Homo sapiens: one gene and its partners. The protein of the gene in region 1 purifies or fractionates together with the protein of each later gene. This does not show direct contact. Each region holds a gene or a part of one and is shown in the gene's direction. Other genes may lie near its edges.

The links.
Region 2: the proteins of PDZD8 (region 1) and STAM purify together in Homo sapiens (affinity purification with mass spectrometry; one large-scale study listed by BioGRID and IntAct). This does not show direct contact.
Region 3: the proteins of PDZD8 (region 1) and MAP4 purify together in Homo sapiens (affinity purification with mass spectrometry; one large-scale study listed by BioGRID and IntAct). This does not show direct contact.
Region 4: the proteins of PDZD8 (region 1) and PRRC2C purify together in Homo sapiens (affinity purification with mass spectrometry; one large-scale study listed by BioGRID and IntAct). This does not show direct contact.
Region 5: the proteins of PDZD8 (region 1) and CCDC124 purify together in Homo sapiens (affinity purification with mass spectrometry; one large-scale study listed by BioGRID and IntAct). This does not show direct contact.
Region 6: the proteins of PDZD8 (region 1) and ST13 purify together in Homo sapiens (affinity purification with mass spectrometry; one large-scale study listed by BioGRID and IntAct). This does not show direct contact.
Region 7: the proteins of PDZD8 (region 1) and RGS3 purify together in Homo sapiens (co-immunoprecipitation; one large-scale study listed by IntAct). This does not show direct contact.

The regions. Positions count from the first base shown.
Region 1 is NC_000010.11:117,291,941-117,295,440, reverse strand, and holds part of PDZD8 (PDZ domain-containing protein 8), read left to right. Parts: exon of another isoform or gene 1-1,977; intron 1,978-3,500. UniProt on the Homo sapiens protein: Molecular tethering protein that connects endoplasmic reticulum and mitochondria membranes. PDZD8-dependent endoplasmic reticulum-mitochondria membrane tethering is essential for endoplasmic reticulum-mitochondria Ca(2+) transfer.
Region 2 is NC_000010.11:17,706,651-17,710,150, forward strand, and holds part of STAM (signal transducing adapter molecule 1), read left to right. Parts: intron 1-2,125; coding exon 2,126-2,301; intron 2,302-3,500. UniProt on the Homo sapiens protein: Involved in intracellular signal transduction mediated by cytokines and growth factors. Upon IL-2 and GM-CSL stimulation, it plays a role in signaling leading to DNA synthesis and MYC induction. May also play a role in T-cell development.
Region 3 is NC_000003.12:47,915,417-47,918,916, reverse strand, and holds part of MAP4 (microtubule-associated protein 4), read left to right. Parts: intron 1-75; coding exon 76-198; intron 199-1,742; coding exon 1,743-2,966; intron 2,967-3,500. UniProt on the Homo sapiens protein: Non-neuronal microtubule-associated protein. Promotes microtubule assembly.
Region 4 is NC_000001.11:171,488,530-171,492,029, forward strand, and holds part of PRRC2C (protein PRRC2C), read left to right. Parts: intron 1-3,500. UniProt on the Homo sapiens protein: Required for efficient formation of stress granules.
Region 5 is NC_000019.10:17,931,764-17,935,814, forward strand, and holds the start of CCDC124 (coiled-coil domain-containing protein 124), read left to right. Parts: upstream 1-1,251; 5' UTR 1,252-1,285; intron 1,286-3,332; exon of another isoform or gene 3,333-3,428; intron 3,429-4,051. UniProt on the Homo sapiens protein: Ribosome-binding protein involved in ribosome hibernation: associates with translationally inactive ribosomes and stabilizes the nonrotated conformation of the 80S ribosome, thereby promoting ribosome preservation and storage.
Region 6 is NC_000022.11:40,836,140-40,839,639, reverse strand, and holds part of ST13 (hsc70-interacting protein), read left to right. Parts: intron 1-3,500. UniProt on the Homo sapiens protein: One HIP oligomer binds the ATPase domains of at least two HSC70 molecules dependent on activation of the HSC70 ATPase by HSP40. Stabilizes the ADP state of HSC70 that has a high affinity for substrate protein.
Region 7 is NC_000009.12:113,505,227-113,508,726, forward strand, and holds part of RGS3 (regulator of G-protein signaling 3), read left to right. Parts: intron 1-215; coding exon 216-297; intron 298-1,161; coding exon 1,162-1,267; intron 1,268-2,060; coding exon 2,061-2,412; intron 2,413-3,314; coding exon 3,315-3,354; intron 3,355-3,500. UniProt on the Homo sapiens protein: Down-regulates signaling from heterotrimeric G-proteins by increasing the GTPase activity of the alpha subunits, thereby driving them into their inactive GDP-bound form.

The DNA.
Region 1 (3,500 bases):
TTAAAAGAATGTATTTTGCCATTGTTGAGTATAATGTTCTATAAGTGTCAGTTAAATCAAGGTTGATGATGTTGAGGTTGCCTGTGCCTCCACTTCTTTTTTCTAGTTATATTGGTTGCTGAGAGGATGAAGAAACCAAGTTTTACCTCTAACAGCAGCTTTAGTAAAGTTACATTGCAAAGAGACATGCTTATAAGAATAGGAGGAATTTGTTACCATGTTTTATGGTCTACCACTGAGTTCATTTTCAGTCTTTTTTGGGTTTTGTTGGTGGTGGTGGGTTTTTTTTGTTTTTGAGGCAGGGTCTAGCTCTGTTGCCCAGGCTGGACTGTAGTGGTGCAGTCATGGCTCAATGCAACCTCCACCTTCCCAGCTCAAGTGATCAAATCAGGATAACTAGCATAGCCATCACCGCAAACATTTCTTTGTGGTGAAAATATTAAAAATAATCTCTTCCAGCTATTTTGGAATATACAATACATTATTAACTATAGTTACCCTATTGTGCAATAGAACATCAGAACTTATACCTCCTAACTGTAACTTTTTATAGCCACTTCTGATCTCCCCACTCCCCCTATTCTCCCCAGCCTCTGGTAACCACTCTTCTACGTCTATTTCTATGAGATCAAGTTTTTTAGATTCCACATATGAGTGAGATCATACAGTATTTGTCCTTCTCTGCCTGGCTTATTTCACTTAACATAATGTCCTCTGGGTTCATCCATGTTGTCATAAATGACTTTTCTCTGGGGTTTTGTTTTTTGTGGCTGAATAGTATTCCACTGTGTTTGTATACCGCACATTTTTTATCCATTTATCCATTGATGGACTCTTAGGTTGATTCCATAGCTTGGCTCTTGTGAATAGTACTGCAGTAATCAAGGAAGTGCAAGTATATCTTCATCATACCAATTTCATTTTCTTTGACTATATACCCAATAGTGGGATTATTGGATCATTGCTAGTTCTATTTTTAAATTTTTGAGGAACCACTGTACTGTTTTTCATAATAGCTGTAACTAATCTACTTTCCCACTAACAGTGTATAGGAGTTCCTCTTCTTCCACATCCTTGTCAATATTTGTTTTTTTGTTTTTTTTTTTTTTTTTTGTCTTTTTGGTAATAGCCATTTATTTGGTAATATGTGTCTTCTCTCTTGTTTCTTGATCAGTTTAGCCTATAGGCTTACCAGTTTTATTGGTCATTTTATTGAGTCAGCTTTTATTGATTTCTCTATTATTTAAGTATCTGTTCCATTGGTTTCTGTTCTTTATTATTTCTTTGCTTCTACTTTGGGGTTTAATTTCTTAAAATGGGGACTTAGGTCACTAATTTTAGATTTTCCCCCCTATATAAGCATTTAAAACTATAAATTTCCTCTAAAACACTACTTTAGTTGCATCCCACAAATTCTGATTGGTTGCATTTTCATCATTTCATTTGAAATATTTTTGGATTTCTCTTGTGATTTTTCTTTAACTCATGAATTATTTAGAAGTGTGTTGTTTTGCTCTCCAGATATTTGGGGTTTTCCTAGTTACTAATTTGTAATTTAATTCCACTATGGTCAGAAAACATGCTTTGTAAGAGTTCTGTCTTTTTAAAATTACTGATATTTGTTTCATGACCTTCTACATCCTGGTGAACTTACCATGTACACTTGAAAAGAATGTATTTTGCCATTGTTGAGTATAATGTTCTATAAGTGTCAGTTAAATCAAGGTTGATGATGTTGAGGTTGCCTGTGCCTCCACTTATTTTTTTCTAGTTATATTGGTTGCTGAGAGAGGGATGAAGAAACCAAGTTATACCTCTAGCAGCAGCTTTAGTAAAGTTACATTGCAAAGAGATATGCTTATAAGGATAGGAGGAATTTGTTACCATGTTTTATGGTCTACCACTGAGTTGATTTTACTGTTCTCTGTACTTTTGTATATATTGGAAATTTTCTGTAATAAAATCTTAAAAGCCAAACCCTCTCAGGTGATATTATATTCCAGGGAATGCATGTTGAAGCCACAGCATGCTTCACCATGTACAGGAAAAATATTTAGGGTTTCTATTTATGTTTGTTTTTTACATTGTCATTTTAAAAGTTCTATTTTGGCATATGTTTTATAGTGCCAGGCATATCCAATAGTCATAAATAATTTTAAGATATAGATGCATACATATGGGAGAGAATTATATATTATATATCATTGTACTATTCTGGTTTTAAAATAGTAGTTTTACCCTAGTGGAAAATCAGTTTTGTTCCAAAAGTTGTGTATCATTGCATGGTCTTGAACCTTATCTTAAATTTTATATTAAAATAACAATGTTTTTGTGAAATACTCATTTTAAAATGCTTTGTTTCACCAGGCTTTTAATTAAGAGGTGTTTTTATATTCTGAAACTTCTGAATCATGTCAGAACTTAATTAAGGTGATGATTTTCATTTCAGGGAATGCTGAAATTAAAATCTAAAATTAGGTCAGTGGGGTGCAGGCTTAAAAGGAAACAAAAACCAGCTTGTAAAAGAAACAGTGTCTTATGTTCTGTTCCCTGTACATACTTGAAATTAAGAGTATTTACTAATAATCAGTAAAAATTGGGGAGAAAGTGAGGTAATGTAATATTGGCCCTAATTATTGCTACTGAAAACCTTATCTTTTTTTTTTTTTGCATCTGGAATGTTTACTTCAGGTATCATTTGAATTAAGAAAAGCAAAGGGAAAGATATGATTTATAGATAGAAAATAAATTAAGAAACTAAATTACACTAACACCTTACACTAGCCTCTATTCACTTCCTAATCCTACCCCCTGAATCTCCATTCTACTTTTAAAAGCAGAGTAAATAACAAAAAAAAAAAACACATTCCAAATGCAGGTGTTAATTTTTAAACTTTACAGTACTCAGACTTACACTGTTTAGGTTTTCTACCCATTTGCTATCATTAGCTTCCTGCAATTAGAAAAACTTACATTCTAAATTTCAGCTTTGGCAATCTGTATATTAAGAATATATTTATGTTCCTGGATTTGAGAGAATATGTTGTTAAGGGTTTTGTTAAAAGCCTTAATTGTGTACAGCACTTTACATTGTAAGGTGATTAATTGCTGTGTCATAAGGCAGGGATTGGACAAATGTCTTAGGAGATTTAAACACAAATTACGTGTTTTGGCGGGGCTTTGTGTTTTGTAAACCTTTAGGTAATTCAGAATTTGACCACATATCCCATTTCTTGAGCACAGTATGATTAAGATTTTCCTTAAAATAACTTTACAAAATTTGTTAACACCCAAATTAAAGAGCAACTTCCAGTGAGGGTTCTTTTACCAGCGAATATCATTAGGTAGGAAAATTGAATTTCTGTCCAAGTGGGATTTATATATTAAAGCAGTGCAGCCAGTGATATATTTGGATATTAGGGTATTTGGCAAAGTCCCTCATGAGATATCCTTGAAGAATAGGACTTAAGAAATGTGGACTGGAGAATAATACAATTAGA
Region 2 (3,500 bases), about 100 Mb from region 1:
TTCCAGGTGTGAGCCATCGCGCCCGGCCGAGGCCCATATTTTTAAAGCTTCGTATGTAATTATTTACTTAAGAACCTTAGTTCTTCATCAGGTTGTGTACACTCAATATGTATAGCCTTTTGCAGGTCAGACATATCTCAATAAAGTAGTTTCGTAAAAAACACAAAATGCTTTTAGAGCTAAGAAAACTCTCTTAAATATCTAATGAACTTCTAGTTATCCTTAAAAGGAAAACTTAAATGCAGTGAAAAAAAAATGAGGTAAAAACCTGTTTTTATTATTACAAACCAACAAAATATATTTCCATAATTTAAAAACTGCTTTAATCTGGAATTTTCCCTGCTTTACATGAGAATGCATGCAATGCAGTGTAGAGCCGTTTGCTTTCTTTTCACCCCAAGCAACTATTTCAAGGACCCCCTTTTCACAAACTCATCACGGTGAGGTGAGGTTATAGGGAATAACTAGCCAGATACTGGCCGGGTGCGGTGGCTCATACCTGTAATCCCAGCACGTTGGGAGGCCGAGGCGGGTGGATCACGAGGTCAGGAGATGGAGACCATCCTGGCTAACATGGTGAAACCCTGTCTCTGCTCAAAATACAAAAAATTTAGCCTGGCGTGGTGGTGGGTGCCTATAGTCCCAGCTACTTGGGAGGCTGAGGCAGGAGAATGGCATGAACCCGGGAGGCGGAGGTTGCAGTGAGCCGAGATCGTGCCATTGCACTCCAGCCTGGGCGACAGAGCAAGACTCCACCTCAAAAAATAATAATAATAATAATAATAAATAAAAACAAAACTAGCCAGATACTCCATTTTTTCCATGTAAAGTGGGCACGGACTGTGTTCAGATTAACGTTTAGCAGAATGAGGGGCCAGCACCCTGTAGATGAACAGCTAGGCCCAAGAAACTTGGGGCTAGAGGGCACCTGCTTTAGAGTCTTGATCACCAGTTTGAGACAAGGAAGCAAAAAACCTTCATGTTCAATTTTCGAAGAATGACAAAATAAAGTTAGGAGGACTGGTATAGCTGTGTTTATAATGAAGACCCTTTGGATCCCTGTGTGGGTCTGTCGTTTAACAGAAGTGCTAAATGGAAGGATCTAATGAATACTGCAGAAAATTAGGACATTATGTGTTTTAGACTTTGGGTAGTTAAGACTTCAATCTCTTTAGATTAAAAAAATGCATTTTGAAATACAGAAGTAGACAAATCCAGCCTGTTGCCTGTTTTTTTTTTTTTTAATAAACTTTTTTTTGAGACGGAGTCTTGCTTTGTCGCCCAGGCTGGAGTGCAGTGGCGCGATCTCAGCTCGCTGCCAGCTCCGCCTCCTGGGTTCAGGCCATTCTCCTGCCTCAGCCTCCCGAGTAGCTGGGACTGCAGGCGCCCGCCACCACGCCTGGCTAATTTTTTGTATTTTTAGTAGAGACGGGGTTTCACTGTGTTAGCCAGGATGGTCTCGATCTCCTGACCTCGTGATCTGCCTGCCTCGGCCTCCCAAAGTGCTGGGATTACAGGCATGAGCCACCATGCCTGGCGGCTTTAAATAAACTTTTATCAGAACACAGCCACTCTGATTTACTGACAGAGCCGAGTAGTTGTGTCAGAGACTACATGGTCCACAAAACTTAAAATATTTACGTCAGGCCCTTTACAAAAAAGTTTGCTGACCCCTGCTTTAGAAAGTTAGCTTGCTCTATTGTTCAATAAACTGCAGTTTAGGAAATGTGACTTGTATCCATTGCAGTCTATGGCTACAAAACAATGAGTTCAAATACACTTTCTAAATATCCTTTGGGATTCCTTAAAAAATACCAACATGCAGAATATTAAAATATATTTAATGTAAAGGGAGATTAGTATAAAGTTTCAGGATAAGTTTCTTTAATGCTTCAGTATGGAGATAACATGAGTTTAGCATATGTTTAACTAAAAATGAAAACCATCAACAGCCTATTTCATTGAAAAGCGTTTTTCAAAATGCCCGTTGACAGAAATAACTTTGAAAAAAGGATTCCAGAGTGGTGATTTTTCTTGTTTTTGTAACTGAATACCTCTACAGAGAAAGTTCAGTATGCTTATTAAAATTTTAGAATTGAATATGATTTCTCTTTAACCATCGCAGGTGTATGCAGGGCCTCCTCCAAGTGGTGCCTACCTGGTTGCAGGGAACGCGCAGATGAGCCACCTCCAGAGCTACAGTCTTCCCCCGGAGCAGCTGTCTTCTCTCAGCCAGGCAGTGGTCCCACCATCCGCAAACCCAGCCCTTCCTAGTCAGCAGACTCAGGCCGCTTACCCAAAGTAATTTTACTGTTGATTCTTGTTTGGAGTTAGTGCTGTTACAGCTGTTTAAGTGCCCCCAGTTATCTATAACTATAAAATCTGGCTAATAAATATCTGTGGTCAGCGTCATGCGGCCGCCCCATTTGTGCTAATGAGTGGTGGAGCCTCTGTGGTATTCCAGTACCAGCCAGCAAGCTGGTCCTCTGCTCCCGACTCGCTCAACTCATGTAATCTGGTTTCAGCCTTATATTTTTAATACTACTCTAACCATAAGTTTTTATTGTTGTTTTTATTTGCATCTATGATATTTGATAATGTCTTTAATGAAATTTATGTTTAGTGACTATAATTTGTCATTTTTCCACACATTTTGTATAAAATCTAAATTCCGTTATTTTAAAATATATAGTTCTGAGCTGTCTCTTTAAGACAAATATTTTCTTATTTTTGCCCTGTTTTGGAATTTAGTTTATATTATATCAAGGTACCCCATTTGAAACAAGAAGATAATAAGAAGGTAAGCACCCTTGTTTCTCAGGAGGCAGATGGCTGAATATGTGATGACAGAGGCCCATTTACTTTGCCATTTACTTACAGTGCTGTCTGTCATGTAGTTAAATGATTATTGTGTGTTTTTTCTGCTTTAATGGGACTCTGAGCTGAAATCTTTTCCTTGAAGCAAATAAAGGATAGGCTTTTAAGAGTTTACCAACGTGTATTCTAGAAGTTACGACATTCTAGCTGGCAACAGAAGTTTCTAGGTAGCACAGGCACAACTTCTAGAAACCTTTCCAGCAGTGTTAGGATTGCCCAGGAATGCTCCTGCACTGCCCTCTCTTGCACTACTCATCCTCAAAGAGTTACGTGTTAGAGATGCTTGGGGATTTTCAAGCATTATTCGGTTGTCAGATCTAGTATCCCGAAGTGACCTTAAGGGGGATGATGGCAAGGCCCACATGTCAGAAAACAGGGCATTCCCTAGTGGGTTCTGTATCTTAGAAAAAAGTGTTAAGTGTAGCTTGCACTCTTGCAGGATTTTTTTTTAAGTTGAAATCTGGTGGAAATGAATACCCTTCTGGAAAATAAACAGCTGTTCTTAGAGTAGCATGTTGCTTTACAACTAGATACAAAGGGGCTAGAAGGTAGGAATTGTTGAGAAGACACTAGGGTTCCTGACTTAATAGGACCCTGCAGCTATTTTAGTATTAGCCGGAACT
Region 3 (3,500 bases), on another chromosome or scaffold:
AAAAATATATCAAATACCTTTTGTTTCCAATGTTTACTAAGTTTCAAAATGTATTTGTTTGTGTTTCAATATTAGGTATGTCTCCCTGCAACACAGCTGTTGTACCTCAGGGGTGGTCTGTGGAAGCCTTAAACTCTCCACACTCAGAGTCCTTTGTTTCCCCAGAGGCTGTTGCAGAACCTCCTCAGCCAACGGCAGGTAAACTATTAGAGACTCCCTTTATCAGTTAATGGTTGCAGTATTGGTAATCAATATAAATCATCAGGTGTATTTTTTAGCAGCTTACAGCAGGTATAAAAATTTCAGAACAATCACAAATGTTTTGCTTATATTAGTGATATCACCACTGGAGGAATTAAATTGTTGAACTATAACACTTAGGGTTAACGGGCACATAAATACTTTTTTTAAATTTTTTAACATATATATATTTTTTTCATCACATTTTCATTGTATTAGGTATCAGAATTTTTTTTTTTAATTCAGTACAGATTTACGGCCTGGTGTGGTGGCTCACACTTATAATCCCAGCACTTTGGGAAGCTGAGGCAGGCAGATCACTTGAGGTCAGGAGTTCCAGACCAGCCCAGCCAACATGGTGAAACCCCATTTCTACAAAAAATACAAAAATTGGTCTAGGCACGGTGGCTCACGCCTGTAATCCCAACACTTTGGGAGGCCAAGGCGGGCAGATCACCTGAGGTCAGGAGTTCGAGACCAGCCTGGCCAACATGGTGAAACCCCGTCTCTACTAAAAATACAAAAAATTAGCTGGGCGTGGTGGCAGGTGCCTGTAATCCCAGCTACTAGGGAGGCTGAGGCAGGAGAATCACTTGAAACCGGAAGGCAGAGGTTGCTGTCAGCCGAGATTGCGCCACTGCACTCCAGCCTGGGTGAAAGAGCTAAATAAATAAATAAATAAGCTCAGCGTGGTGGCGTGTACCTATAATCCCAGCTACTAGGGAGGCTGAGACAGGAGAATTGCTTGAACCCGGGAGCCGAGATCATGCTACTGCACTCCAGCTTGGGCAACAGCGTGAGACCGTGTCTCAAAAAACAAAAACAAAAATTCAGTACAGATTTAGAACTCTGGAGTTTTTCTTGATAGGAAGCATGACTGACCTGCTGTCCCACAGATTATCTTTCTAATACTAATTCTGTGCCCGTGTTATTTTTGAAGCCTATGTTTTCTCTCTTCTTTGCCATTTCTCCTCCACTACTTGTCCTCCCAGTATTTTACATCTTATTCTTCCAAGTGTTGAGACTGTCAAAGAGTAGGCAGAATATGTTACTTGACATTAGCTTCTTCTTCTTTTTTTTTTTTTTTTTTTGAGACGGACTCTTGCCCTGTCCCCCAGGCTGGAGTGCAATGCCGTGATCTCGGTTCATTGCAAACTCCGCCTCCTGGGTTCTAGCAATTCTCCTGCTTCAGCCTCCCAAGTAGCTGGGATTACAGGCGCCTGCCACTGCATGGCTAATTTCTGTATTTTTAGTAGAGACAGGGTTTCACCATGTTTGTCAGGCTGGTCTCGAACTCCTGACCTCAGATGATCCATCCGCCTCGGCCTCCCAAAGTTCTGGGATTACAGGCGTGAGCCACTGTGCCCGGCCTAACATTAATTCTTAGTTATGTGTACAGTCTTATGGTCACAAAAGCCAAATACTCTCATGCCTGAAGAAAGTAAGCATTTTTAATGCAAAGGTATGAGTAGACAATGATGTGTCCTAAATTTCCAATTTAGTTCCCTTAGAGCTAGCCAAGGAGATAGAAATGGCATCAGAAGAGAGGCCACCAGCACAAGCATTGGAAATAATGATGGGACTGAAGACTACTGACATGGCACCATCTAAAGAAACAGAGATGGCCCTCGCCAAGGACATGGCACTAGCTACAAAAACCGAGGTGGCATTGGCTAAAGATATGGAATCACCCACCAAATTAGATGTGACACTGGCCAAGGACATGCAGCCATCCATGGAATCAGATATGGCCCTAGTCAAGGACATGGAACTACCCACAGAAAAAGAAGTGGCCCTGGTTAAGGATGTCAGATGGCCCACAGAAACAGATGTATCTTCAGCCAAGAATGTGGTACTGCCCACAGAAACAGAGGTAGCCCCAGCCAAGGATGTGACACTGTTGAAAGAAACAGAGAGGGCATCTCCTATAAAAATGGACTTAGCCCCTTCCAAGGACATGGGACCACCCAAAGAAAACAAGAAAGAAACAGAGAGGGCATCTCCTATAAAAATGGACTTGGCTCCTTCCAAGGACATGGGACCACCCAAAGAAAACAAGATAGTCCCAGCCAAGGATTTGGTATTACTCTCAGAAATAGAGGTGGCACAGGCTAATGACATTATATCATCCACAGAAATATCCTCTGCTGAGAAGGTGGCTTTGTCCTCAGAAACAGAGGTAGCCCTGGCCAGGGACATGACACTGCCCCCGGAAACCAACGTGATCTTGACCAAGGATAAAGCACTACCTTTAGAAGCAGAGGTGGCCCCAGTCAAGGACATGGCTCAACTCCCAGAAACAGAAATAGCCCCGGCCAAGGATGTGGCTCCGTCCACAGTAAAAGAAGTGGGCTTGTTGAAGGACATGTCTCCACTATCAGAAACAGAAATGGCTCTGGGCAAGGATGTGACTCCACCTCCAGAAACAGAAGTAGTTCTCATCAAGAACGTATGTCTGCCTCCAGAAATGGAGGTGGCCCTGACTGAGGATCAGGTCCCAGCCCTCAAAACAGAAGCACCCCTGGCTAAGGATGGGGTTCTGACCCTGGCCAACAATGTGACTCCAGCCAAAGATGTTCCACCACTCTCAGAAACAGAGGCAACACCAGTTCCAATTAAAGACATGGAAATTGCACAAACACAAAAAGGAATAAGTGAGGATTCCCATTTAGAATCTCTGCAGGATGTGGGGCAGTCAGCTGCACCTACTTTCATGATTTCACCAGGTACGTGCTTGTGCTTATTCTCAGTATTTCTCTCTACCAGGTTGTAGTCTCGAGAAGACTAAGGACAAACATCATGCCAGGTAAAGTACAGACAGTCACACTGTACTTTGCAAGTTTATTCATACTCCTGCTCTCCTAGACAACTCTTTCCCGCCTTTACCCTCCTCCCACCTCCAACACCTTTTCTATGTTCATTCTCTGCTGATTGTCCTGTTTTTCTTGCAGATAAGTCAAGCAATAAAATAGAACATCGACAAACTTCTATTCCATTATCTACCCAACTACTTGTATCTGTATCCATGGTCTCTGCTTATGAAAGTTCCCGTTTTTATAAGTAAACTGTTCCTGCTCCTAATTAAGACCAACCTCTCCTCATTTTGCCCTAGATTCCATCTCCTCTTTCCTACTCGATATATTGCCCCATGTATTCTTCCCTTTTTTGCCCCTCATACCAATTTAAATCTTTTTTCATTGGATCATTCCCACCCATTTAACAAACGTTTGTTATTTTTCCCATCTTAAAAAACGAAACAT
Region 4 (3,500 bases), on another chromosome or scaffold:
GTTGCCCTGGCTGGCCTCCAACTCCTGGGCTCAAGAGAATCTCCTGCCTCAGCCTCCCAGGTAGCTGGGACTAGAAGTGCCTACCATTGCTCCCAGCATTGCCAGTTACATTTCTAGTCCTTATTTTCCTCCAGATTATCAGAAAGCATGTTTTGGGGCCTGTGACTACATGTATTTGCTGGCAAATCCAGTCAAACAAGGACTGTTACTTAGTTTCAACCGGAAATTTTTATCTGATTGGCAGACATGATTAACTAGACTCTTAGACTGTTAACTAAGAGTCTGAACACAAGATTGTAATGAAATTATTATGTGAATTATAGTCAGTGTGATATACTCATCCCTGTGTGGTGCTGCTATGTGCTCAACATTAAGGGAAGATGGAATATCATTTGAGGAGCACGTCTAGTATTAAAAAAACTATTGGGTATTATGTATGTAGCATACTACATAGCAATATGTACTACATACTATCTGGTAATTTTTCTGTTTTCTGTGTTCTAATACTAGTTTGTTTTCCTCTACTAGACTGTTTCCATGTCCTCATCACCTTGTATGGTGGTTGGCGTATACCTAGAGTTTATATGTTATTGAATGAATGAGGGTGAGAAACACAAAAGAATAGACCCACAAGATTAACTGATAAGTATATTATTGGAGCAAAAGAAAATGCTGTCAGGTTTTTTTTCCTTTACCTCTAAGAATAGTATCACAGGTAACCTTCGAAGAGTTTGTGTTAAATAATATGCATTGTGAGATTTATTTACATCTGATTTTTAAAATTTTTAGCTTATTCAACAAAGATTGAAGATTCTTTTAATTTTGTAAGGCCCAGTGAATCAGAGCAATATGGCATTTGGTCCACTCCCAAGGTGTTCACAGCCTTAAGGATTAATGTTAAAAGTTATCTTGTAGTCTTTGGATTCATGCCAGAAGATAAAAAGGTGTATAAGAAGGTAAGGGAAATTTGGTACAGAAAATTACAGATAGTACAGATTGAGTTCCTAGTTGATTATAAGTGAAGCTGTGATGTCTAAGAAAAATCAAGAATAATTGTGATTATTAATATTTCTTGAGCACTTACTATGCCATGTTACTAAACTAAGACTATTTTTTGAATGATCTATTTAAATCCATATTGCAGAAAGCCTAAAAGGAAGAGATTTAAGTAATTTGCTCAAAGTTACTTAGCTTTTAAGTGGTAGAAATGGCATTTGAATTATTGATCCAGAGCCTGAGTGCCTAACTCAACTACATGGGTTTCCTAGTGGCCAGTATTTTCCAAACTTAAATCATTCACAATTTCTGCTTCGTCCCAAACCATCTGCCTGTTACTTAATATTTTTCTTCAATTCAACTTGCTGTCTTTTAATTAAATGAATTTAAACGAATTTTTTTTTTCTTTTTTTAGATGGAGTCTCACTCCGTTGCCCAGGCTGGAGTGCAGTGGCGCTATCTTGGCTCACTGCAACCTCTCCCTCCCGGGTTCAAGTGATTCTCCTACCTCAGCTTCCTGAGTAGCTGGGATTACAGGTGCCTGCCATCACGCCTGGCTAATTTTTGTATTTTTAGTAGAGATGGGGTTTCACCATGTTGTCAGACTGGTCTCGAACTCCTGACCTCGTGATCCGCCCACCTTGGCCTCCCAAAGTGCTGGGATTACAGGCGTGAGCCACTGCATCCTGCCGTTTAAAAGGAAATTTTTATGATTATTTGGCATTAGCTTCCCCCCAACATGTTTTAAAATAAACATGATTTTACATAATTTTCTGTGGATCACTTAAAATCATCCAGTATACTACCAGTCTTTGTATTCCACCCTTTGGGACATTACTGCTATAAGAAATGAATACTGGATAGGATCAGGCCACAGGTACAGTTAATGAAGGTCGAAAGCCTAGAATGGAATAGATTGATAAAATAGGAAATGGCAGCATTACAGGAATAGAGATATGAATTAGTCTTAACTACATACTTGAGACAACCACTTTCATGATAAACCGCAAAGGAGTAGGTTTATTTAGATAGAGAAATGTAATAGGATGTCTAGGACAGTCTATGGCAAGGGAAGAACAAGACAAAATAAGAAGGAAGTCACTATAGAAATCAGGGCAGAAGAGGATAATCTAAAAACAGGATTATTAGAGCTAAATGTAGCAGAGTTCAGAAAAATATGTGACAAGTAGTCTTTGGATTTGGCTGTGATATCCTTGGTGACCTTAAAATAATCTAGGTCAAGTTACAAAAGTGGAAGGTTAAAGGGGGAAGAGGGAAAATCTCTTGATTTTTAGATATATTGAATACTCAAAGTGGACTCTAGACTAATTGTTTTAAAACCTAGGTTTAGTCCTTTTTGTCACTTTGTGCCAGCTGTTAATTTTGGGGCAAGTTAACCTGGCTTAAGTTTTAAATATATTGATTTGTGATACAAGGATAATATCCATTTCCCCTATCTCAGAGGACTATTGCAAAGAGTACATTTATGTATTTCTATATATCTTCTGAATTTAATATTCTTTGATATTACACAATATCAAGACATGAGTCTTGACCATATTTAAAGCAGAAAAGAGAACCACGAAAAGGGAAAATTAAAGATAAAGGGGAAGATACGTTCCCTATAAGGTTGGAAGATCCCTTCTGAATAAATCTTGAGTCTGAAGGATAAGAGATGGATACATGTATGTGGTTGGAGAATGGGTATCTAGATAAGTTAATAATTCATTTTTTCTTCCCTGTTTGCCAGTGAACAATCTGAAGGTACAGGGCTGCTATATATGGTTATGCAGCTTGTATACTGCCCAAAGATGCTGGACTGAAGGAAGCAACAAGTCAGCCTGTGTTCTGCTTACAGAGTCCTGTGCCCCAGCTTAGGCCTCGCAGAGGGAACTGTGCCTCCACTTCTCTCTCCAAGGCATCAGCTCCTTGCCAAAAGTGTCTGTATTTCCCCAGAAGGATGTATTTTTCCTAGTTACATAAAGGCCCTATGGAGAGCAATGGATGCTCTGAAAGACTCCTTAAGGAGACATATTAAGGATACATTTAGAACAACATCAAAAACAATTGGGAAATTGGAGAAATGGTCACTAAGGAACAAAAAGCTTTGAACTTTTTGCTGAGATGGGTTAGGTGGTTGGGCAAGTACAGAATTCTCATTTATCCAGTGTACTTTAAAGATCTGTATTGTAGCTTATTAAATATTTTTATTAATCAAGAAACTATATTAAATATCATAGTTTATCATATTTCAAAGAAGAGTGATAAGAGTAAAACAATACTTAACACAATTTAATCTTACCCAAAAACTTTGTAATTTTGGGGTTTAAATTAAAATTTAGATTTTTGGTCATGTGGCTGGTAGTTTTATATATAAGTAACTTTTTAATGTTAGGTTTTATAATTAAAGCTATATAAATTTTATAGCTCTTAATTGAAGAAGCACAATAGGGAAGGTACACAGTTACTTCTGAAGGTTAGGAAAATGGAACAGTGGCATTTTA
Region 5 (4,051 bases), on another chromosome or scaffold:
ACTGCGACCAGCCAGGATAATAATCTTTCATGTGATTTTCCGACTTTAAGCCCCCTGCACCCAGAGACCTTTCTGTCTCATGCCTGAAGGGAAGGAACTGGCCACGGAAAAACCTGGGAAATTCCTGGGGGAACTCCCTGAGGCAAGACTGCGCCTGGCAATTTGTAAGAAGGGGGCTGGTGCGACCTGAGCAGAGAGCTAATGGGAGGGTGAGGGAAGCCAAGGGAGATGGGGTGGGAGGTGGGAGGAGTCTTGCGGGACAATGGGAACCCAGGGGAGGCGTTAGAGCAGGGGAGGTGCATCGCGCACTGGGATTTAGGTCCCAGCAAGGTCGCTGGGGGGATGCCTTTTAGGGAATGGACTCTGTGGTCAACTACTCCTACCTGAACTGCCCCCAAAGCATTTGCTTTTCCCTCTCCACAGTCAGGACCAGTGTAACCTTAGACCCCTAATACTGCCATTTTTACTGTTGAGAACACCGAGAAGTAGTAAATGCAGAAAATCTAAAGTATAGTGCCTAAGACAAATTGGCGCCTCAAACCTAATTTCTAAATAAAATTAATAAATAATATTGCAGAAGTGGGGAGCAGGTCAGCAATCCAGGAAGAGGCACTGGCAGGAGCAAGAGACGGAATTTGAGCCTACTCGCGGTTATGAGCCTACTCGCGGTTACATTTTGGCCAAACTCAATTCCTGGTCTCTCTGAGCCTCGGTTTCCCTACCTGGACTGCGCGGTGTGTGTTAATTTCTCTGCCCCATTTATCTCCCCTCTCCTAGCCCCGCCCCAGCGTCACCAGTGGGACGCAGAGACTCAGGACTAGGAAAGCACTTTTAAAGCGTTAAGGGATTGCGAAGAGCTACGGAGAGGCTTCCTCAGGGCTATACTGGGTCCACCTCCCCTCATGGACCGCGGGCGCGCTCTGGCGGCCGGGCCGCTCCAGGCTGAAGCCGCCGGACCACGTGTGTAGTCGCAGCTGCCATCTTTCATCCGGGCATCGGCCATCTTGGTAAAGGCAATGTTCTAGATTTTCGCCTCTGCCCGCCCCTCCTGGTTCATCAACATATTAAATGAGCGTAGGGAATGAGGGCGTATTAAGTGTCCTCTTTTTGAAGAGACAAAGAAGTGGCTGACTACCCTGGCTTGGGTCCGAGGCCCAGCCATCTTTTTCTTTACCAAAATGGCGGCGGTACTGAGGCGCAATGAGTGCGCGCCGCCAGGAGCTCAGCGCGCAGGCCCCATGATGACGTCACGGAGGCGCGACCGGGCCGGCGCTGGGGTAAGAAGGTAGGAGCGTCTGCGGCGCGGGCGGAACCCGGGTTCGGGGAGCAGAGGCGCGGGGCGGGGGCTGCTTGGCCTGGGACCATCCCCTGGGAAGGCTGGAGGAGGGGTGCTGGGAGGCAGGAGCACTTCTGGCGTCCAGTCTGAACCGCACCTAGTTGGGGGCGATGCCCATTTCCAGACTAGACGATTGAAGCCCGACGCGACAGCATGTTCGAGGCCACCTGGCCCCGGACTGCCCCTAGGCAGCTTCTGGTCTCGAGAGGGACAGAGTTGGGCGCGGACTCCCCCGGCCTCTTGTAGGGGGATTAGTGGTGGGGGACTTCAAAAGGGATAGCCGGGAGGGCTGCTTAGAGGAGGCATTGTTGAATTTTGTATTCTGTTATTTTACCTTCACATCCGTGGGGTCTTAATCCCCATGGGTCTTGATTCGCTTCTAAGTGTGCCCCTCGCCCAGCCTGAGCCACTCCCTGGGTACCGCCTGGGCTCCCAGCTCCTGCCATCTGGGGAGTCCACCTCCTCACTAACCCCAGAGGGCTTGTGTGACCCATAGATTGGGCTTCCCGGCTCTAACGCCCTCCACACCTTCCCATCTCCCTGGAATACAAATCGCCCCCTTTTCCAGCCTACCTCCTGCATCCCGCGTGCAGGCTGCGCTCTCCCCCACTCATTCAGACTTTTCCTTAGATGTCTCCTTTAGGAAGCCCTTTGACCCAGGCTGGGTCAGAAGCCCTCTCCGGGCTTCCCCGGCGCCCTGCGTGTCCTTATTAGGACTCTGATTGCATGTGTTGGCTCTTCTCTGGGAGTCCCATGCAGGCAGAAAGCTCATTTGTGCCACCTCTTTCCCCAGCATCGCACACGTATTAGGTGCCCAGTACATATTTATTGAATGACGTGTGCAAGTGAGTGAGTGTTTACTACACAGAGAAAAGTGTCTGTATTTCCAGCTTGGGCTGTCATAACTAATACCACAGACTGGGTGGCTTAAACAGCAGAAATTGCCAGGCACTGTGGCTCACACCTGTAATCCAGGCACTTTGAGAGGCCGAGGCAAGCGGATCACTTGAGGTCAAGAGTTTGAGACCAGCCTGGCCAACATAGTGAAACCCCGTCTCTACTAAAAATACAAAAATCAGATAGGCATGGTGGCACATGCCAACATGGTGAAACCCCATCTCTATAAAAATACAAAAATTAGCCGGGCGTGGTGGCAGGTGCCTGTAATCCTAGCTGCTTGGGAGGCTGAAACAGGAGAATTGCTTGAACCGGGTGGGTGGAGGTTGCAGTGAGCCGAGATTGTGCCACTGCATTCCAGCCTGGGTGAAAGAGCAAAACTCCGTCTCAAAACAAAAAAAAGCCCCAACGTGGAAACAGCCCAAATGTCTAGCTGTGGACAATGGATAAACAAAATGTGGCGTATCCATGCAGTGGAGGAATATTCAGCCATAAAAAGGAACGAAGGGCCAGGCGCAGTGGCTCAGGCCTGTAATCCCAGCACTTTGGAAGGCCGAGGCGGGAGGATCACTTGAGCCCAGGAGTTCAAGGCCAGCCTGGGCAACATAGTCAGACCCTGCCTTAAAAAAAAAAAAAAAAAGCTAGGCATGGTGGCCTGCACCTATAGTCCCAGCTACTTAGGAGGCTCAGGTGGGAGGATCACTTGAGCCCAGGAGGTCAAGGCTGCAGTAAGCCGAGATTTCGCCACTGCACTCCAGCCTGGGCGACAGAGTGAGACCCTGTCTCCAAAATAAATAAATAAATGTACTCTCACACTGTGTGGCCTTTTGTGTCTGGCTTCTTTCACTTAGTATTGTGTTGTTGAGGTTCAACCACATTGTATCATGTATGTATTGGTGCCTTGTTTCCTTGTTTCCTTTTTTTTTTTTTCTTTTAAGAGACAGGGTCTTGTTCTGTTGCCCAGGCTGGAGTGCAGTGGCACAATCATAGCTCACTGTGGCCTCAGCCTCCTACGCTCAGGCGATCCTTCCACCTCAGCCTCCTAAGTAGCTGGAACTACAGGCACAAGCCACTGTGCCTAATTATTTTTTATTTTGTAGAGACGGACTCTTGCTATGTTGCCCAGGCTGGTCTTGAACTCCTGGCCTCAAGCAATCCTCCTGCCTCAGCCTCCCAAAGCACGGGGATTACAAACGTGAGTGATCGCACCCGGCCTGTGATTCCATTGATATGGACTGAAATGTCCAGAACAGGGAAAGCCACAGAGACAGAAAGCAGATTGATGGTTACCAGGGGCTAGGGGAAGAGGAATAGGGAGTGACTGCTGATGGTGATGTGGCCTCTTTTGGGGGGTGCAAGTGTTCTGGAACTAGACAGAGGTGGTATTTGCACAACGCTGTGAATATACTTAAACACTGAATTGTACACCTTTTTTTTTTTTTGAGATGGAGTCTCGCTCTGTCGCCTAGGCTGGAGTGCAGTGGTGTGATCTCAGCTCATTGCAACCTCCGCCTCCCGGGTTCAAGTGATTCTCCTGCCTCAGCCTCCCGAGTAGCTGGGATTATAGGCATGTGCCACCACACCCAGCTTTTTGGTTTTTTTTGAGAGTGAGTCTCACTCTGCCGCCTAGGCTGGAGTGCAGTTGCACGATCTCGGCTCACTGCAACCTCTGCCTCCCAGGTTCAAGCGGCTTTCCTGCCTCAGCCTCCTGAGTAGCTGGGATTAAAGGTGTCCGCCACCACACCCAGCAATTTTTATTTATTTTTAGTTGACACGGGGTTTCACCATGTTGACTAGACTGGTTTTGAACTCCTGACC
Region 6 (3,500 bases), on another chromosome or scaffold:
GCGTGTGCTACCATCTCCAGCTAATTTTTGTATTTTTAGTAGAGACGGGGTTTCACTATGTTGGCCAGGCTGGTCTCAAATTCCTGACCTCGAGTGATGTGCCCGCCTCTGCCTCCCAAAGTGCTGGGATTGCAGACGCGAACCACTGCGCCCGGCCCATGGTAGTATTAAGTGTAATGTTTGATCGGTTATAATTTGTAAGAACAAATCATGTATAAACTTGGGTACTGTGGCTGCTTGAGTAATATTTCACTCTTTATAACAGTGATAGTGTGTCACAATGCCATAGTTGACTAGATGCTATTGTATAGTGCTCATGTGCATTTGGACTTCATTATTAGATTTAGAAGATGATTGAAGTTATTTTTAGAATGAGTTCAGTATTGATGTTCCGAGTTAGTATATATTTTAAACATTTTGTGATTCTACCACCTGATTAATTTAGCTCCTTAAAACATGTTTATACTGTTTTATACTGCAGTTGCCTTAATAGTTTACCTTCCTGAAAAATTTATTCCTTTATTGCTTTCTGTTTACTTTCCCTAGGTTATTCTTAGAGCTGTTTTTTATTCTACTCTTGCTTGTAACCTGTGATTAACTTTTGCATATATATTTAAGATCTTCATCAGAGGATTATAGACCTGCCAGACTAAGATCCTGTATTTTACTTCTCCAATCTTGTTTTCTCCAGTCAGACTTTACTGTTCTAGAATTTTTTTTTTTTTTTTATTTATGCTATACTGTTTCTCTGGAAAGCTTTTCTTCACATATTTCAACTTTTAATTCATACCTATCAGTTGTTCCCAGCCATTGCTCTTCTGTACCATTCCTTTTCATCGCACGAAACTTTTGCTAATTTCCCTACCACCTAAATTTTAAGAGACAGAGTCTTACTCTGCCACTCAGTTTGGAGTGCAGTGGCATGGTCATGGCTCACTGCAGCCTCAAGTTTTGTAGGCTCAAGCAATCTTCCTGAGTAGCTGGCAATACAGGTGCCTGCCACCATGCCTGGCTAATTATTATCTCTTTTTTTTTTTTTTGGTAGAGATAGGGTTTCATCCTGTTGCCCAGGCTCGTCTTGAACTCCTGCCCTCAAGCAGGCCTCCCAAGCTCAGCATCTGAAAGTGCTAGGATTACAGGTGTGAGGCACTGTGCCCAGCCCATTTTAAAATTTACTGTCTCGGCAATATGTAACAAAAGGAAAATGAGGCTATCACCTAATCATGTTTTTGTTTTCTCACTTTTTTCTGAACTCTCTGTTCATGTGCCTTTGTAAATTTAATCTAGTTCTGATTTTAGAATTTATGCAATTGTATAGTGTATTCTAAAGGATAAAAGATTAGTATTCTAAAGCAGGGGTTGTGAATCCAAGCTCCACCAAGGTTGGTGAAGGCAGTTTTGTTTGGAGAATGTAATTAAAACCTGGAGTATGGAGCCAGAGTGGTATGGTTTGAATCCCACGTCTGGCACTTAACTGTGGCTGCTTTCCCACTACAACAGCATCATTGAGTAGTTATGACAGATTGTATGGTCTGCAGAGATTAAAATAATTCTTATTTGGCCCTTTCCAGAAAACGTTTACCAACTCCTGAACTAAATGTATGGAGGAGCCATTTGTTTAGTTGGGAAGATACAGATTGGGAATAGATTTGGAAATGGGCTAGGAAATGGGAATTCAGTTTTTCGGTTTTGAGTGGGCGTGGTGGTTCACACTTAACAATCCCAGCACTTTGAGGGGCCGAAGCGAAAGGATCTCTTGAGTCCAAGAGTCCAAGATCAGCCTGGTCAACACAGTGAGACTCCATCTCTTAAACACAAAAAATTAGCTGGATGTGGTAGCACGTTTCTGTAATATGAGCTACTTGAGAGGCTGAGATGGGAGGTTCCCTTGAGGCTGGGAGGATCCTTTGAGCCCAGGAAGTTGAGGGTGCAGTGAGCTGTGATTGTGTCACTGCACTCCAACCTGGGTGACAGAGCAAGACCTTTTTTTTTTGAGATGGAGTTTCAGTCTTGTTGCCCAGACTGGAGTGCAATGGCACGATCTTGGCTCACCGCAACCTCCGCCTCCCGGGTTCAAGCGATTCTCCTGCCTCAGATTCCTGAGTAGCTGGGATTACAGGCATGCGCCACCATATGCGGCTAATTTTATATTTTTAGTAGAGACGGGGTTTCTCCACGTTGGTCAGGCTGGTCTTGGTATTTCTCCATGTTGGTCAGGCTGGTCTTGAACTCCCGACCTCAGGTGATCCACCTGCCTCGGCCTCCCAAAGTGCTGAGATTACAGGCGTGAGCCACTGTGCCCAGCCAAGACCCTGTCATAAAAAAAATTTAGGTTTTGAACATGGTAGGTCTGAGTTGTTTATTAGACATTTAAGTGTAATTACCTATAATAGATACCTGTAGTAGTAATTAATAAGACTGAGCATTTTTCTGTGTTGTTTTTGTGAGTTCTTTTCAAGTCCTTTACTCATTCGCTAACTGGCTAAGTATCTTTCACAGTGAATTGTGACATTTATTTAAAAATTTCTGTGTTCGGCCTGGCACAGTGGTAATCCCAGCTACTCAGAAGGCTGAGTTGGGGGGATTACTGGAGCCCAGGAGTTCGAGAGCAGCCTAGGTGACACAGTGAGGCCCAGTCTCTAAAAAATTTTTTTTAATTAGCCAGGTTTAGTGTTGTGGGCTTGTATTCCCAGCTACTCAGGAAGCTGAGGTGGGATGATCACTTCAGCCTGTGAGCTATGATCATGCCACTGTACTCTAGCCTATGTGAGAGTTAGACCCTGTCTCTTAAAAAAAATTCTGTATTTGTCTTGCCTCCCCAAGATTTAGACTTTGTGCAAAGAACTCTTCTGATTCTATAGGGTGTTTTATTTGTTGAATGACATAAGGGATTAGTAAAGAAGCTAACTATGAGAATAGGACAAAATGAATTAAAGTATAGGTTATGGTCTTTTATGAATTCTAGTTTTCTTGAATTTTTGTACCATTTCTTTGAATTCAAATAATAAGCATATTGTTGTTTTCTTTTAAAATCAGCCCTGTGAAGTTAACATGGGTTACTTTTCCTTTCTAAGCTTAATTTTTTCTTTTTAATTTAATGGATAAAAGAAAATCAATGGAATAAAATTAATTTATCTTATCCTTTAAATTGATTTTATCTTTTTACTTTTTTCTTTTATTTTTATTTTTATTTTTTTGAGACGGAGTCGTGCTGTGTCACCCAGGCTGGAGTGCAGTGGTGATCTCGCCTCACTGGAAGCTCCGCCTCCCGGGTTCGCGCCACTCCTCAGCCTCCCAAGTGGCTGGGACTACAGGGCTCCGCCCCCACGCCCAGCTAATTTTTTGTATTTTTTAGTAGAGATGGAGTTTCACCGTGTTAGCCAGGATGGTCTCGATCTCCTGACCTCATGATTTGCCTGCCTTGGCCTCCCAAAGTGCTGGGATTACAGGCGTGAGCCACCGTGCCCGTCTACTTTTTCCTTAAACAAGATCAATATGGG
Region 7 (3,500 bases), on another chromosome or scaffold:
CTGAGCTTTGGGCCTTCCTGCTTGGCCCACAACCCAGTGCTCAAGTTGTCTGGGCTGAGATAGGGACACTGAGGGGCTGGCTAGCTCCTTTGTGCCTCCAGTTCCCTTGGAGAGGAGGGTGGCTCTTGGCAGGGGTGGGCTGTGGGCTTCCTGACCTTGGGGTAGAGGCAAGAGCCTCCAGCTTCTGGCAGTGACCGGGCAGGGCTGTGTCCTAGATCACCATCCCGAGGGGAAAGGACGGCTTTGGCTTCACCATCTGCTGCGACTCTCCAGTTCGAGTCCAGGCCGTGGATTCCGGTAAGTTATTGACAGGGGGATGCCAACCCCACTTGCCCACCACACATGTGGGCTTTGCAAACATAGTCTGGAACTAAAAGGGGAGCCCCAAACTGGAGCAAAGTGTCCTGGCTTTTCAAAATGAAAAGAATAATATTTTTAAGTGACCGTAGATGAAACTGCCATTTATGAAAATATGCCCACTTTTTTTTTGTTGTTTTTATCAAAATGAAAATAGGTTTTTATATTTTGTTTCCCAATCAGTTTGAACAGGAACTAAACCTATATTTTCAGCAATGGCTGCAAGGGAAAATGAGAGTCATTTGTGAACTCTATTTGAAGCTGTTTTGTATCCTATCCAGAGCCTGATCAGCACTTAAAAAGAGCCATCCTTCCCTACTTTTCACAAATGAAGATTTCTCTTAATCACAGAGTGAGCATCTCAAAGACAGAAGCCAGGGCTCAGTGGTCAGGGTGTTTCCAGTGCCTACACAAGGGTGGGCATGAGGTTCGTGCACAATGATTGGCAGAGAAGGAATAAATGTAGTGTGGGAGCCTGGCCCCAGGGAAGGTTCTCAATGGGGTAGGAGGCCCTGGGGAGGGGTAAGGGCCCGGGTAGAAGGGTGGACTGCAGAGAGGTAAGCCAGCAGTAGGGGAGGTAAGCCAGCAGTAGGGGAGGCAAGCAGGGAGAAGGGAAGGCAAAGGGATGCCTTCTTTCAAGGCTCTTGAGAGGCACCAAGTTCAGTCCCTCATTTCACGGATGAAGAAACTTAGAGAAAAAGGGAGGTCCTTGTCTGAGGTCACCATGGCAGCAAAGGACTCCAGATCCTTTGAAGGGGTCTTAGGCTTCAGGGGCCCCTGAATGGCTTTTCTTTGTCCCTGCAGGGGGTCCGGCGGAACGGGCAGGGCTGCAGCAGCTGGACACGGTGCTGCAGCTGAATGAGAGGCCTGTGGAGCACTGGAAATGTGTGGAGCTGGCCCACGAGATCCGGTGACAGGGGACAGCGGGTGGCCTGGGGCCTCAGGCTGATGGCACACCCTCCCCACCCCTGGGCACACTGCCTTGCCTGGCCCAGCTCTTGCTGCTCCCTCTTTTGCCTAGCTGTGAGCAGGCAATTCCTTTTGCTCTTCAAGGAATCTGTTTCTTGGCCTGAGAATGGAAGGTTCAGGCTCAGAGCACTTTTGGATTCCAGAGCAAACAGCAGGGAAGATGCTCTCAGACTCTGTGGTTCAGGACGGGGCACCAGGAGGTTGCTTTCTGCTTTAGCTAATTTTTGTTACCTAAGAGCTAAGCCCATTTGTTATTTAAGGGCATGAAGATGTTGCAAATGTTTCAATTGCACAATTAAAAAAATATTCTTGAAAACATTGGAGTCTCCCAAATTTTGATCCTCTAGGGTAAAACCCCGATGGCCCCATTTTAGGTCTGCTTCTGGAATAACCAGATGAGGGCTTGCACTTAGGTGACCTGCTAGCTTTACTTGCTTATATCTTGCTTTTGATAAGCATCATGGATTGAGTATGGAACTCTTTCCTGTTGAAACTGGCCTGGCCTCAGGGTCCTTCTCAACCACTGCCCGTCAATAGGAATTGACCTAGGTGACCCATTTGCTGTCTCTTCTTTAAATGGCTTCTTGCATCCCTTCCTGCCCTGACACTGGGGGCTTCCCCTCTGGTGTCTGCCTCCTCTTCCCCCATTATCCTCTCTGCCCTGTGGGCCCTCACTCTGGCTGATACTGGCTTTCCCCAGGCTCAACCTGTCTGTGTGATCCCCCACCTTCCAGGAGCTGCCCCAGTGAGATCATCCTACTCGTGTGGCGCATGGTCCCCCAGGTCAAGCCAGGACCAGATGGCGGGGTCCTGCGGCGGGCCTCCTGCAAGTCGACACATGACCTCCAGTCACCCCCCAACAAACGGGAGAAGAACTGCACCCATGGGGTCCAGGCACGGCCTGAGCAGCGCCACAGCTGCCACCTGGTATGTGACAGCTCTGATGGGCTGCTGCTCGGCGGCTGGGAGCGCTACACCGAGGTGGCCAAGCGCGGGGGCCAGCACACCCTGCCTGCACTGTCCCGTGCCACTGCCCCCACCGACCCCAACTACATCATCCTGGCCCCGCTGAATCCTGGGAGCCAGGTACGGACAGCTGGTGTGGGGAAGGTGAAGGGTACTGGGTCCCTGTGGGAGGCCAGGAAGACTTGAAGACCCAAAGTTGTGTGATGAGCAGCCTGTGAGGGGCTGCGATGTTGGGCAAGGAGATGGGGTATGTGCTAGCTCTGCCTTCTGCAAGGCTGTTCTTGGTAGGGAGGACAGATGGGTCTATGTGGCCTCAGGGCACAGATTCAAGACCAGGGCATGCACAGGCTGGAAGATTTCAACTCACAGAAGGAAGAGCTTTCTACTAGCCTGTGCTTTTCCCCAGTGGAATGGGCTGCCTTGGTAGGTGGTGAGCCCCCATCATAGGAGGTATGAAAGCAGACACTGCATGATTGCATGGTGGGATGATGGAGTGCGCTCCCCAAAACATTAGTCCCATGAGATGCTCTGGGAAAAAGGTGTTCTGAGGTCAAATAAGCTTGCGACATATCCCATACCCTCTTCCTCATCTAGGAGATTCTCAATGCAAAGGAGCCTAGTAGAGGCTCTGCTGGCATCCTGTACTACAGCAGGTGTCAACCAAATAACACCGCATTTCCCAAACTTGCCTAATGGGGGCACACTTTAGGGCGTGGTTGGTACCGTCTTACCATTCCAGTGTTCCCTAGAATGCACTTTGGAACCAGCTGCTGTAAAGGAAGTTGGGGACTTGCCAAGGGGTTAGGCTTCATGACCCATAAAGCCTCTTTCAACTTGAATATTCTGGGATTTTGTGTTCTCTCCCAGCCTCCTCCCTCAGCTGGTTACCAGAACTGCTGTTTTTCTCTTGTGCCCTGAGGTGCTCCACTTCCTCTCCCCTGGGGCCCCCGTGTCCAGCAGCCTCCTGGGCTGTCCTGCCCTGTTCCTGGGGCTGAGGTGGTTTTCCTGTCTTTCCCTTGCAGCTGCTCCGGCCTGTGTACCAGGAGGATACCATCCCCGAAGGTGAGTCTCCTGCTGCTGCTGTGCCCTCCTAGCTCAGAGAGGCAGCAGGGGTCAGCTGAGGCCTGGCCCAGCCTCCGCCCCTGAGTTCTGAGGCCTTTCCAATGGAGTCAGGTCACTTAGCCTATCGACACAGACTCTCTTTCCAC